2 linked regions of the Homo sapiens genome follow. The protein of the gene in region 2 purifies or fractionates together with the protein of the main gene of each other region. This does not show direct contact. Each region holds a gene or a part of one and is shown on either strand. Other genes may lie near its edges.

The links. The genes of interacting proteins can lie anywhere in the genome.
Region 1: the proteins of ACVR1B (region 2) and PEG10 purify together in Homo sapiens (affinity purification with western blotting; one study listed by BioGRID). This does not show direct contact.

What each region holds. Positions count from the first base shown.
Region 1 is NC_000007.14:94,662,302-94,667,707, forward strand, and holds part of PEG10 (retrotransposon-derived protein PEG10), read left to right. Parts: intron 1-1,032; coding exon 1,033-2,233; coding exon of another isoform or gene 2,234-3,381; 3' UTR 3,382-5,406.
Region 2 is NC_000012.12:51,981,949-51,987,354, forward strand, and holds part of ACVR1B (activin receptor type-1B isoform a precursor), read left to right. Parts: intron 1-737; coding exon of another isoform or gene 738-860; intron 861-1,395; coding exon of another isoform or gene 1,396-1,400; exon of another isoform or gene 1,401-2,044; intron 2,045-2,050; coding exon 2,051-2,218; intron 2,219-3,243; coding exon 3,244-3,400; intron 3,401-4,869; coding exon 4,870-4,994; intron 4,995-5,406. UniProt on the Homo sapiens protein: Transmembrane serine/threonine kinase activin type-1 receptor forming an activin receptor complex with activin receptor type-2 (ACVR2A or ACVR2B).

The DNA.
Region 1 (5,406 bases), on a different chromosome or scaffold from region 2:
TTGACCAACACAGTATTTTTAAAAAAGTAAATGTCTTTAGGTGGGAAATGCATGCCCATGTTGCTATAGTTGCAGCCCCTCCCTCTTTTAATCCCACTCTTTTTACACAGATAGTCACCTTTCTATTTTCTAATTAATAACTTTGTTCATATCAGCTAACCATTGTTGAATACTCACTACATAATTTACCTGCACTATTTAATTAAGTCCTCATAATTAGTTTGAGGTATACTATTATTGGGCTTCTTTGAATGTCCCATTTTATAGCTTTTCCTAGGAGGCATCAATTATTATTTCTTGAATGACTGCATAATGACAAAGGAAACTGACATACACATATTGCTGCTTAGTGCCATTTCTGTCCCATAGAGAATTTTCTTTGGGGATTTAAATTATGGTCAGAAAAGTAATTTAGGCAGTCCTGTGGTTTTTGTGGTGGTGGTTGTTTGATTTGATAACCAGTTACCTTCTCGGTGGCAGTGGAATAGGGTTGTGACAGTTGGCCAGAGTACCCTCCTGCCCACAGGGCTGATGAATACATGCATTGTGATTTTAATACTCCCTTCTTGCTTTAATGAGATTCTATTAGTTGCAGTATTAACTATTTTTGGCCTGGCTTCTTTAATAACAAAAGTTATTATTTTGGCTTTAATTTGCATAATTGATTTTGTATCCATGTTTGCCTTGAAGTTTCTTGCTGTGTTTGAATACAAAACTACTTGTTTAGAGGGTTTCAACATTCTTTTATAGTTTATAAAGGTAAGCATGCTGTTGATAATGTATTGTTGAATCATAATGAACAGGTGGCCTTTGAGGAAGACAAGGTCATTTGAACATCAAAAAGTACTTTGCTTTTTGTTATATATGGTGCTGATTACTAACTTTCTCTTGAGAGTTTATTTTCTTTGTTCACTAATTATTAATGTAAGCACGTAGAGCAAGGGATAATTTAAATACCAAATCCTTTGTGTCTGCTTTTGCTGCTTTGAATGTATAAGTTGGATTTATACATACATTTATCTTTATTTACAGAAATAAGCGGGTTTTGAAAACAAAAAAAAGAAGGAGTGGAAGAGGGGGCCAGGATCCAGGCCTCCATCCCCACAGAAGTGAAGCTACAGCTGGGAGGTCTCCTCCCACCCCAACCGTCACCCTGGGTCCCGACTGCCCACCTCCTCCTCCTCCCCCTCCCCCCAACAACAACAACAACAACAACTCCAAGCACACCGGCCATAAGAGTGCGTGTGTCCCCAACATGACCGAACGAAGAAGGGACGAGCTCTCTGAAGAGATCAACAACTTAAGAGAGAAGGTCATGAAGCAGTCGGAGGAGAACAACAACCTGCAGAGCCAGGTGCAGAAGCTCACAGAGGAGAACACCACCCTTCGAGAGCAAGTGGAACCCACCCCTGAGGATGAGGATGATGACATCGAGCTCCGCGGTGCTGCAGCAGCTGCTGCCCCACCCCCTCCAATAGAGGAAGAGTGCCCAGAAGACCTCCCAGAGAAGTTCGATGGCAACCCAGACATGCTGGCTCCTTTCATGGCCCAGTGCCAGATCTTCATGGAAAAGAGCACCAGGGATTTCTCAGTTGATCGTGTCCGTGTCTGCTTCGTGACAAGCATGATGACCGGCCGTGCTGCCCGTTGGGCCTCAGCAAAGCTGGAGCGCTCCCACTACCTGATGCACAACTACCCAGCTTTCATGATGGAAATGAAGCATGTCTTTGAAGACCCTCAGAGGCGAGAGGTTGCCAAACGCAAGATCAGACGCCTGCGCCAAGGCATGGGGTCTGTCATCGACTACTCCAATGCTTTCCAGATGATTGCCCAGGACCTGGATTGGAACGAGCCTGCGCTGATTGACCAGTACCACGAGGGCCTCAGCGACCACATTCAGGAGGAGCTCTCCCACCTCGAGGTCGCCAAGTCGCTGTCTGCTCTGATTGGGCAGTGCATTCACATTGAGAGAAGGCTGGCCAGGGCTGCTGCAGCTCGCAAGCCACGCTCGCCACCCCGGGCGCTGGTGTTGCCTCACATTGCAAGCCACCACCAGGTAGATCCAACCGAGCCGGTGGGAGGTGCCCGCATGCGCCTGACGCAGGAAGAAAAAGAAAGACGCAGAAAGCTGAACCTGTGCCTCTACTGTGGAACAGGAGGTCACTACGCTGACAATTGTCCTGCCAAGGCCTCAAAGTCTTCGCCGGCGGGAAACTCCCCGGCCCCGCTGTAGAGGGACCTTCAGCGACCGGGCCAGAAATAATAAGGTCCCCACAAGATGATGCCTCATCTCCACACTTGCAAGTGATGCTCCAGATTCATCTTCCGGGCAGACACACCCTGTTCGTCCGAGCCATGATCGATTCTGGTGCTTCTGGCAACTTCATTGATCACGAATATGTTGCTCAAAATGGAATTCCTCTAAGAATCAAGGACTGGCCAATACTTGTGGAAGCAATTGATGGGCGCCCCATAGCATCGGGCCCAGTTGTCCACGAAACTCACGACCTGATAGTTGACCTGGGAGATCACCGAGAGGTGCTGTCATTTGATGTGACTCAGTCTCCATTCTTCCCTGTCGTCCTAGGGGTTCGCTGGCTGAGCACACATGATCCCAATATCACATGGAGCACTCGATCTATCGTCTTTGATTCTGAATACTGCCGCTACCACTGCCGGATGTATTCTCCAATACCACCATCGCTCCCACCACCAGCACCACAACCGCCACTCTATTATCCAGTAGATGGATACAGAGTTTACCAACCAGTGAGGTATTACTATGTCCAGAATGTGTACACTCCAGTAGATGAGCACGTCTACCCAGATCACCGCCTGGTTGACCCTCACATAGAAATGATACCTGGAGCACACAGTATTCCCAGTGGACATGTGTATTCACTGTCCGAACCTGAAATGGCAGCTCTTCGAGATTTTGTGGCAAGAAATGTAAAAGATGGGCTAATTACTCCAACGATTGCACCTAATGGAGCCCAAGTTCTCCAGGTGAAGAGGGGGTGGAAACTGCAAGTTTCTTATGATTGCCGAGCTCCAAACAATTTTACTATCCAGAATCAGTATCCTCGCCTATCTATTCCAAATTTAGAAGACCAAGCACACCTGGCAACGTACACTGAATTCGTACCTCAAATACCTGGATACCAAACATACCCCACATATGCCGCGTACCCGACCTACCCAGTAGGATTCGCCTGGTACCCAGTGGGACGAGACGGACAAGGAAGATCACTATATGTACCTGTGATGATCACTTGGAATCCACACTGGTACCGCCAGCCTCCGGTACCACAGTACCCGCCGCCACAGCCGCCGCCTCCACCACCACCACCGCCGCCGCCTCCATCTTACAGTACCCTGTAAATACCTGTCATGTCCTTCAGGATCTCTGCCCTCAAAATTTATTCCTGTTCAGCTTCTCAATCAGTGACTGTGTGCTAAATTTTAGGCTACTGTATCTTCAGGCCACCTGAGGCACATCCTCTCTGAAACGGCTATGGAAGGTTAGGGCCACTCTGGACTGGCACACATCCTAAAGCACCAAAAGACCTTCAACATTTTCTGAGAGCAACAGAGTATTTGCCAATAAATGATCTCTCATTTTTCCACCTTGACTGCCAATCTAACTAAAATAATTAATAAGTTTACTTTCCAGCCAGTCCTGGAAGTCTGGGTTTTACCTGCCAAAACCTCCATCACCATCTAAATTATAGGCTGCCAAATTTGCTGTTTAACATTTACAGAGAAGCTGATACAAACGCAGGAAATGCTGATTTCTTTATGGAGGGGGAGACGAGGAGGAGGAGGACATGACTTTTCTTGCGGTTTCGGTACCCTCTTTTTAAATCACTGGAGGACTGAGGCCTTATTAAGGAAGCCAAAATTATCGGTGCAGTGTGGAAAGGCTTCCGTGATCCTCTCGCTGCACCCTTAGAAACTTCACCGTCTTCAAACTCCATTTCCATGGTTCTGTTAATTCTCAAGGAGCAGCAACTCGACTGGTTCTCCCAGGAGCAGGAAAAACCCTTGTGACATGAAACATCTCAGGCCTGAAAAGAAAGTGCTCTCTCAGATGGACTCTTGCATGTTAAGACTATGTCTTCACATCATGGTGCAAATCACATGTACCCAATGACTCCGGCTTTGACACAACACCTTACCATCATCATGCCATGATGGCTTCCACAAAGCATTAAACCTGGTAACCAGAGATTACTGGTGGCTCCAGCGTTGTTAGATGTTCATGAAATGTGACCACCTCTCAATCACCTTTGAGGGCTAAAGAGTAGCACATCAAAAGGACTCCAAAATCCCATACCCAACTCTTAAGAGATTTGTCCTGGTACTTCAGAAAGAATTTTCATGAGTGTTCTTAATTGGCTGGAAAAGCACCAGCTGACGTTTTGGAAGAATCTATCCATGTGTCTGCCTCCATATGCATCTGGGCATTTCATCTTCAGTCCCCTCATTAGACTGTAGCATTAGGATGTGTGGAGAGAGGAGAAATGATTTAGCACCCAGATTCACACTCCTATGCCTGGAAGGGGGACATCTTTGAAGAAGAGGAATTAGGGCTGTGGACACTGTCTTGAGGATGTGGACTTCCTTAGTGAGCTCCACATTACTTGATGGTAACCACTTCAAAAGGATCAGAATCCACGTAATGAAAAAGGTCCCTCTAGAGGATGGAGCTGATGTGAAGCTGCCAATGGATGAAAAGCCTCAGAAAGCAACTCAAAGGACTCAAAGCAACGGACAACACAAGAGTTGTCTTCAGCCCAGTGACACCTCTGATGTCCCCTGGAAGCTTTGTGCTAACCTGGGACTGCCTGACTTCCTTTAGCCTGGTCCCTTGCTACTACCTTGAACTGTTTTATCTAACCTCTCTTTTTCTGTTTAATTCTTTGCTACTGCCATTGACCCTGCTGCAGGATTTGTGTCATTTTCCTGCCTGGTTGCTGAGACTCCATTTTGCTGCCACACACAGAGATGTAAGAGGCAGGCTTTAATTGCCAAAGCACAGTTTGAGCAGTAGAAAACAACATGGTGTATATCTCAAATTGCCTGACATGAAGAGGAGTCTAACGGTGAAGTTTCACTTTTCATCAGCATCATCTTTCACATGTTCATTATCATCTGCTCTTATTCTTGCATGTTTAAACACTTAAAATTTTTAGTATAATTTTTAGTGTGTTTTGAAGTGGTGACTAGGCTTTCAAAAACTTCCATTGAATTACAAAGCACTATCCAGTTCTTATTGTTAAACTAAGTAAAAATGATAAGTAACATAGTGTAAAATATTCCTTTACTGTGAACTTCTTACAATGCTGTGAATGAGAGGCTCCTCAGAACTGGAGCATTTGTATAATAATTCATCCTGTTCATCTT
Region 2 (5,406 bases):
CGCCTTCGGACTCTGCTCTTGGTCAGTCCTGTCCCTGAGGATTCTTTCCTTCTTCCTCTCCCTTTTATTGCTTTAGTTTTTGAATCTCTTATGTGCCAGGCACCTCCCTATGTTTGAGGACCTCATTGACTAGCAAAGGATGACGAGTAAGGGTGATTAGAGGAGGTAAACACGAGTTGTTCTGTTGAGCACAAATTGGGGCTGACTCGCACCTGAGCCCAGTTGAGACAAAGGTGGCAAGAACTGGTCAGGAAGAAAAATCTTCCTTGCAGGGAAGAGCACTGCAGACATGTGCAAAGGTGAGGTTTGGGGCCCAGCAAGTAACTTGGATGGCTGTGGGTGGAGAGGGAGGCAGAGGCCAGATTATGAGGGGCCTTTTTGAGAGGATTGTATTCCATTCTGAAGATAGTGGGTAGTAATTAAAATTTCATTCATTAATTCTATAACATTTATTGACTGCTGTGGGCCAGACCTCTGCTGGCTGCTTGGACCATCACACATAAGAGCAAGACACAGTCCCTCCCCTCACAGAGCTCCCAGGAAGAAGGGGACAGACACGTGGACAGGTAGTGGCACCCGGAGCACAGAGAGGATGCTGTGAGTGGCTGGTTCACATTGTGGAAGGGTCTCTCTAGCAGTTGTGACATGACTTGCTCCTGTGGCATGGTGCAATTTAGAAGTTAGTGTCTACAAAGCCTACAGAAGATGCTATTTGTTTTTCATTCCTGAAACAACAGCAGACTGCTCATTCCTCACATTGCCATGGGAAGTTGTAATGGTCTCTGCTGCCCCCAAGCTGAGGAGCCTTAGACTCCAATACAAGGGAGGAAGGGGAAGAGCAAGATTTTTATTCCCACTGAGTAAGCTATTCCTTTTTAAAACTATCACCTTTTGATAAAATTTAAATCTTATATGTTTTAAAAGGATCAAATCATGTCTTCTCTTTGAACTTGTTAGCAGGGTCCTCAGGACTTTGGGGCTGGTTAGAGTGCGAGAAGCAGTGTGTTGGGTGGGCCCCTTGTTTGTGATAAGAGAAGCCAAGATGTGTGTGTTTCCAGGATCCATCCCTTTATTGATTCTGGCAGCTTGTGTGAGTAGGGATCTGGCTTTCAAAACCCACCTTAAGGCCAGGGAAGGGAAACAATCAGACTCCCTCGTTCTTGCCTTTTTAACATGGGGTATATATAGTATGGTGCCCTGGAATCAGCGCCAGCCTGGAATTTTGGAGATTTCAACTCAATTTCCAGTCTTCCAATTGACAACGGCATGGCTTAATTCGATTCCTGGCTTTGGTGTTTCTTTTTCTCCCTCCTCCTGCTCTCCTCCTTCCTGCTGTCCCTAGTGTAAAAGAGAAAATAAAGTGTATGCACTCTACCTTCCATTGCTCCTCTGAAGGATGAGATGCCTTTCTGGGAATACTTGGAAGTGGTCTATTCATGCACTGAAAAGCATTTTTTGGCCTGGAATCCAATAATCCATAAAGGAGATCTTTCCTACTCACAGAGATATCATAGCCTGGTAAGAACAACAGACTGAAAAGAAACATTACAGATGAGACAGGTGCTGTGTTTGGGCTGTGTTCAGAGGGTCGCTGGGACACAGGAGGCCCTCCAAGGCTTTCCTGTTTGGTGGTGGTAGATCCAGCTCATTGTGGTTCTCCCGTGCAGATGAGCAAGTCTTGGTCAGGATCAAAGCAGTGCTGCACACAAAGCTGGTGATAGCTGTTACCTTCCCCAGGCATATGCCTCCTCTTTCCTGAGTACCTCACATTTCAAATTTGACATAATGTTCAGAATCCTACAGTTCACCTAAAGGAAATCAGGAGCAGTCCTAAGAAAGAAATGGTGTTCCCCTGTCCTTACTGAGGTCCCAAACTGGTAGACCACTATAAATGAAAGGATGCTAGATGGGGCTTCAGGGGGCATGGAGGTGGGAAATGTGAATTCAGGAGTCTAACCTGATTTTGTGTTGTATACACTCATCCTTACCAACCTTCACTGTTTTGCTGATAGTTACACTTTTTCTGGGACTCATCTGTGGTTCTCTGCAGATAATGGCACCTGGACACAGCTGTGGCTTGTTTCTGACTATCATGAGCACGGGTCCCTGTTTGATTATCTGAACCGGTACACAGTGACAATTGAGGGGATGATTAAGCTGGCCTTGTCTGCTGCTAGTGGGCTGGCACACCTGCACATGGAGATCGTGGGCACCCAAGGTGAGTGGACTAGCGCAGGAGCGGCGAAGTGGTGTAGGCATGAAAGGTCCGCAGTGTCCTGATTTAGTTCCTAGAATTCCTTTTTACTGAGGAAGTTGGGGCTGGACCTCAGGAACTCTAGTTTAATTTAAAGGAAAGGAGGTTTGAGCTTCACTTAAGTGAGGTATCTACAGGGTGTTCCCTTCACCTCTGTCTTGATAGAACTCCCTCAGGAACCCTATAATATCAATATTCAGCTACTTGTCAATCAGTGGCTTGACATAGTCATTTGTTACGAAGGAGTAATCATCTTAGAATCCCACAATAGACATGAGAAAAAATGGAACTAAAAAGATAAACCAGTGTACTGGGAACATCAGTTTAGTGATTTCCATGTTCATTGATGGGGACAGCTGGCTTAAAGGCCACTTGGTGGATTAGATTCTGGGCCTTACTAATCTGGGAAGGTTTTCCTGGAGGAAGAAGACCTGAAGCTCTGCTACTTGTTGATTATCATGTCGGCTCTTTGGGAGATCCTGGATCTTGTCACAATGGCAGGTGTGATCCCTGATGCCTGGTTGACCAGGGCCACAATGGAAAATCACCCGTGAAAGTTGGATCCTATTCCTATAGCCTGTGCGGTGCCAGTTCTCATCATCGGGCCTGTTTCCTTCTGAGAACTAGGCATTGCAGCAACTTCCCTTCAGTCCCTCAGCACTTCTGTACCTGAGCATATTTGCTCAGGGAAGGCGAGTAGTAGTAGTAAATATTAATACAAATATTAGCTAAATACACATGTCCTTCTATGGTCGTAACTTAGCTACATGAATGCATTTAATCCTCACAACAGTCCCATGAAATAAGTAGTCATTCTGATTTTATGGATGAGAAGACTGAGGTACAGAGGGCTAAAGTCACTTTTCCAGGGTCACTGGATTAGCAGGAGGCAAAGCCAGGACTCAAACCTATACAGTCTGGCTGCATAGTCTATGCTTTTAACATTTATATCATCTCTTTGTAAAGATCCCTGTTTTTTTCTCTGCCAGGGAAGCCTGGAATTGCTCATCGAGACTTAAAGTCAAAGAACATTCTGGTGAAGAAAAATGGCATGTGTGCCATAGCAGACCTGGGCCTGGCTGTCCGTCATGATGCAGTCACTGACACCATTGACATTGCCCCGAATCAGAGGGTGGGGACCAAACGGTAGGAGGGCCTGGGACTCTGCCCTTGCTAAGCAGCTTCTACTGAGTATCCCATCTGTGCCGTTTCCCATATGCGCAGGAGAAGGAGGTGTTGAAAAAGGAGGCGAGGACCTTGCTCTCAGCCCACTGAAAGTTGAATTGAACATGCACTCCCCACAATGGAAAGTTGCATCACTGCATCTAACAGATACAAGTGCTGAGAGCACAGCTCCATAAACTGTATGCACATTGGTGTTGGTGGTATTAAGGTCGGAGGGTAGAGAAGGACAATCTAGAGCAGGATTTAGAAGGATAGCAGGCAACAGGTGTGGCTCGGGAAAGAGGGAAAACACTGTCATCTCCTGTGCAGAGAGCTGTGAAGGAGGCAGGGAGCATGTGCTTAGGGACTGGAGACCAGATTTGCCAAACTATAGCAAAGGTAACCCAGGATAGAGATTTGGGGCACCCTTCAAGATTATGGGCCTGCTTCCCACTTCATGCAGAAGTGAGGTAAGAAGTAAGGAGCTGTGATTGCAAATTGACTTCATGAGTTGGAAATGGGACTGCCTTTTAATAGAGTGGAAGAGGTGGAAATCTGCTGAATCTAAATGAATTTAATTAAGATTATCCCCTGATTTATTGTGGGGGCTGGGGTGGCTGGAATCATAGTAATTACTCATAATTACTACTCAGAGTCATTAAGGGTGCCGCTGACCACCTCTAGAATTAATTTTGACATATCTATAGTCAGGTAAGATAACAAAAGCAGTTCGGAATGAAACTTAAGCTCAACCCATCACTGTGACTACATTCAATAAAGTGAAGGACCCTGGTGTCAACCAAATATTAGGTACTGTTACTGCCCCTGTGACCCACATTACAAGTACTTCTGCCAAGAAGTCAAAACATGCTTCAAATAAACAAATCTTTACTCTCTCTTTGTTTTTTTGATATGGAGTTTCGCTCTTGTTGCCCAAGCTGGAGTGCAATGGCACAGTCATGGCTCACTGCAGCCTCCGCCTCCCGGGTTCAAGTGATTCTCCTGCCTCAGCCTCCCGAGTAGCTGGGATTACAGGCGCCTGCCACCATGCCTGGCTAATTTTTTGTATTTGTAATAGAGATGGGGTTTCGCGATGTTGGCCAGGCTGGTCTCCAACTCCTGCCCTCAGGTGATCCGCCCACCTTGGCCTCCCAAAGTGCTGGGATTACAGGCGTGAGCCACCGCACCTGGCCAAATAAACAAATCTTGATGGTTAAAAATAGAGATACACATCAGAGTAGCCTGGTATTGCCAAATCTGTGCTGAAGTATTTAGAATCAAATTTAAAACATGGGAGTTTGCAATGAAGAGATGTGTACACTTCTTCTGCCCCAAGGGACTTTATCAGGGTGATACTCTTCCACATTCAGAGGGCTCCTGAATCAATACTTTGATTTAAAGAGAGCAGTCATCATTTTCTGTGCGTGACCATGTTTGTTTTGCTATTGCAGATACATGGCCCCTGAAGTACTTGATGAAACCATTAATATGAAACACTTTGACTCCTTTAAATGTGCTGATATTTATGCCCTCGGGCTTGTATATTGGGAGATTGCTCGAAGATGCAATTCTGGAGGTACCTTTCTTTTTTGCCTTTGCTCCTACCTCCCATTCCAGGATGCTGGATCACCCAAAGCTGTTTTACTGCCCCCTTTCTTTTTACAACCTGTTGGATGCCTGTTGCCAGAGCCTGAATCATCGTTTAAGGTTGCCATCAAAGGTGTGGAGGTAGCTGTGCTTAGGGTGCGTTTATTCTTCAGGGATCAGTTTGTTGAATAGCGTTGTGTGTTATGGTAACCATTCTGAAGGCTCGTTTGGCTTTATAAACAAACAAACATTGTTTTATTAGTCCGTGGCGGGGAGTGCCCCGGTGCGCATAGCACGGGATTCATGCAGTGGTCTCCTTCACATCAGAAGCAGTATATTCTAACGCGGTGGCTCCCAAGCCACATTCATGGGAAACCCTGCTGTTTCATTGTTAAAATAAT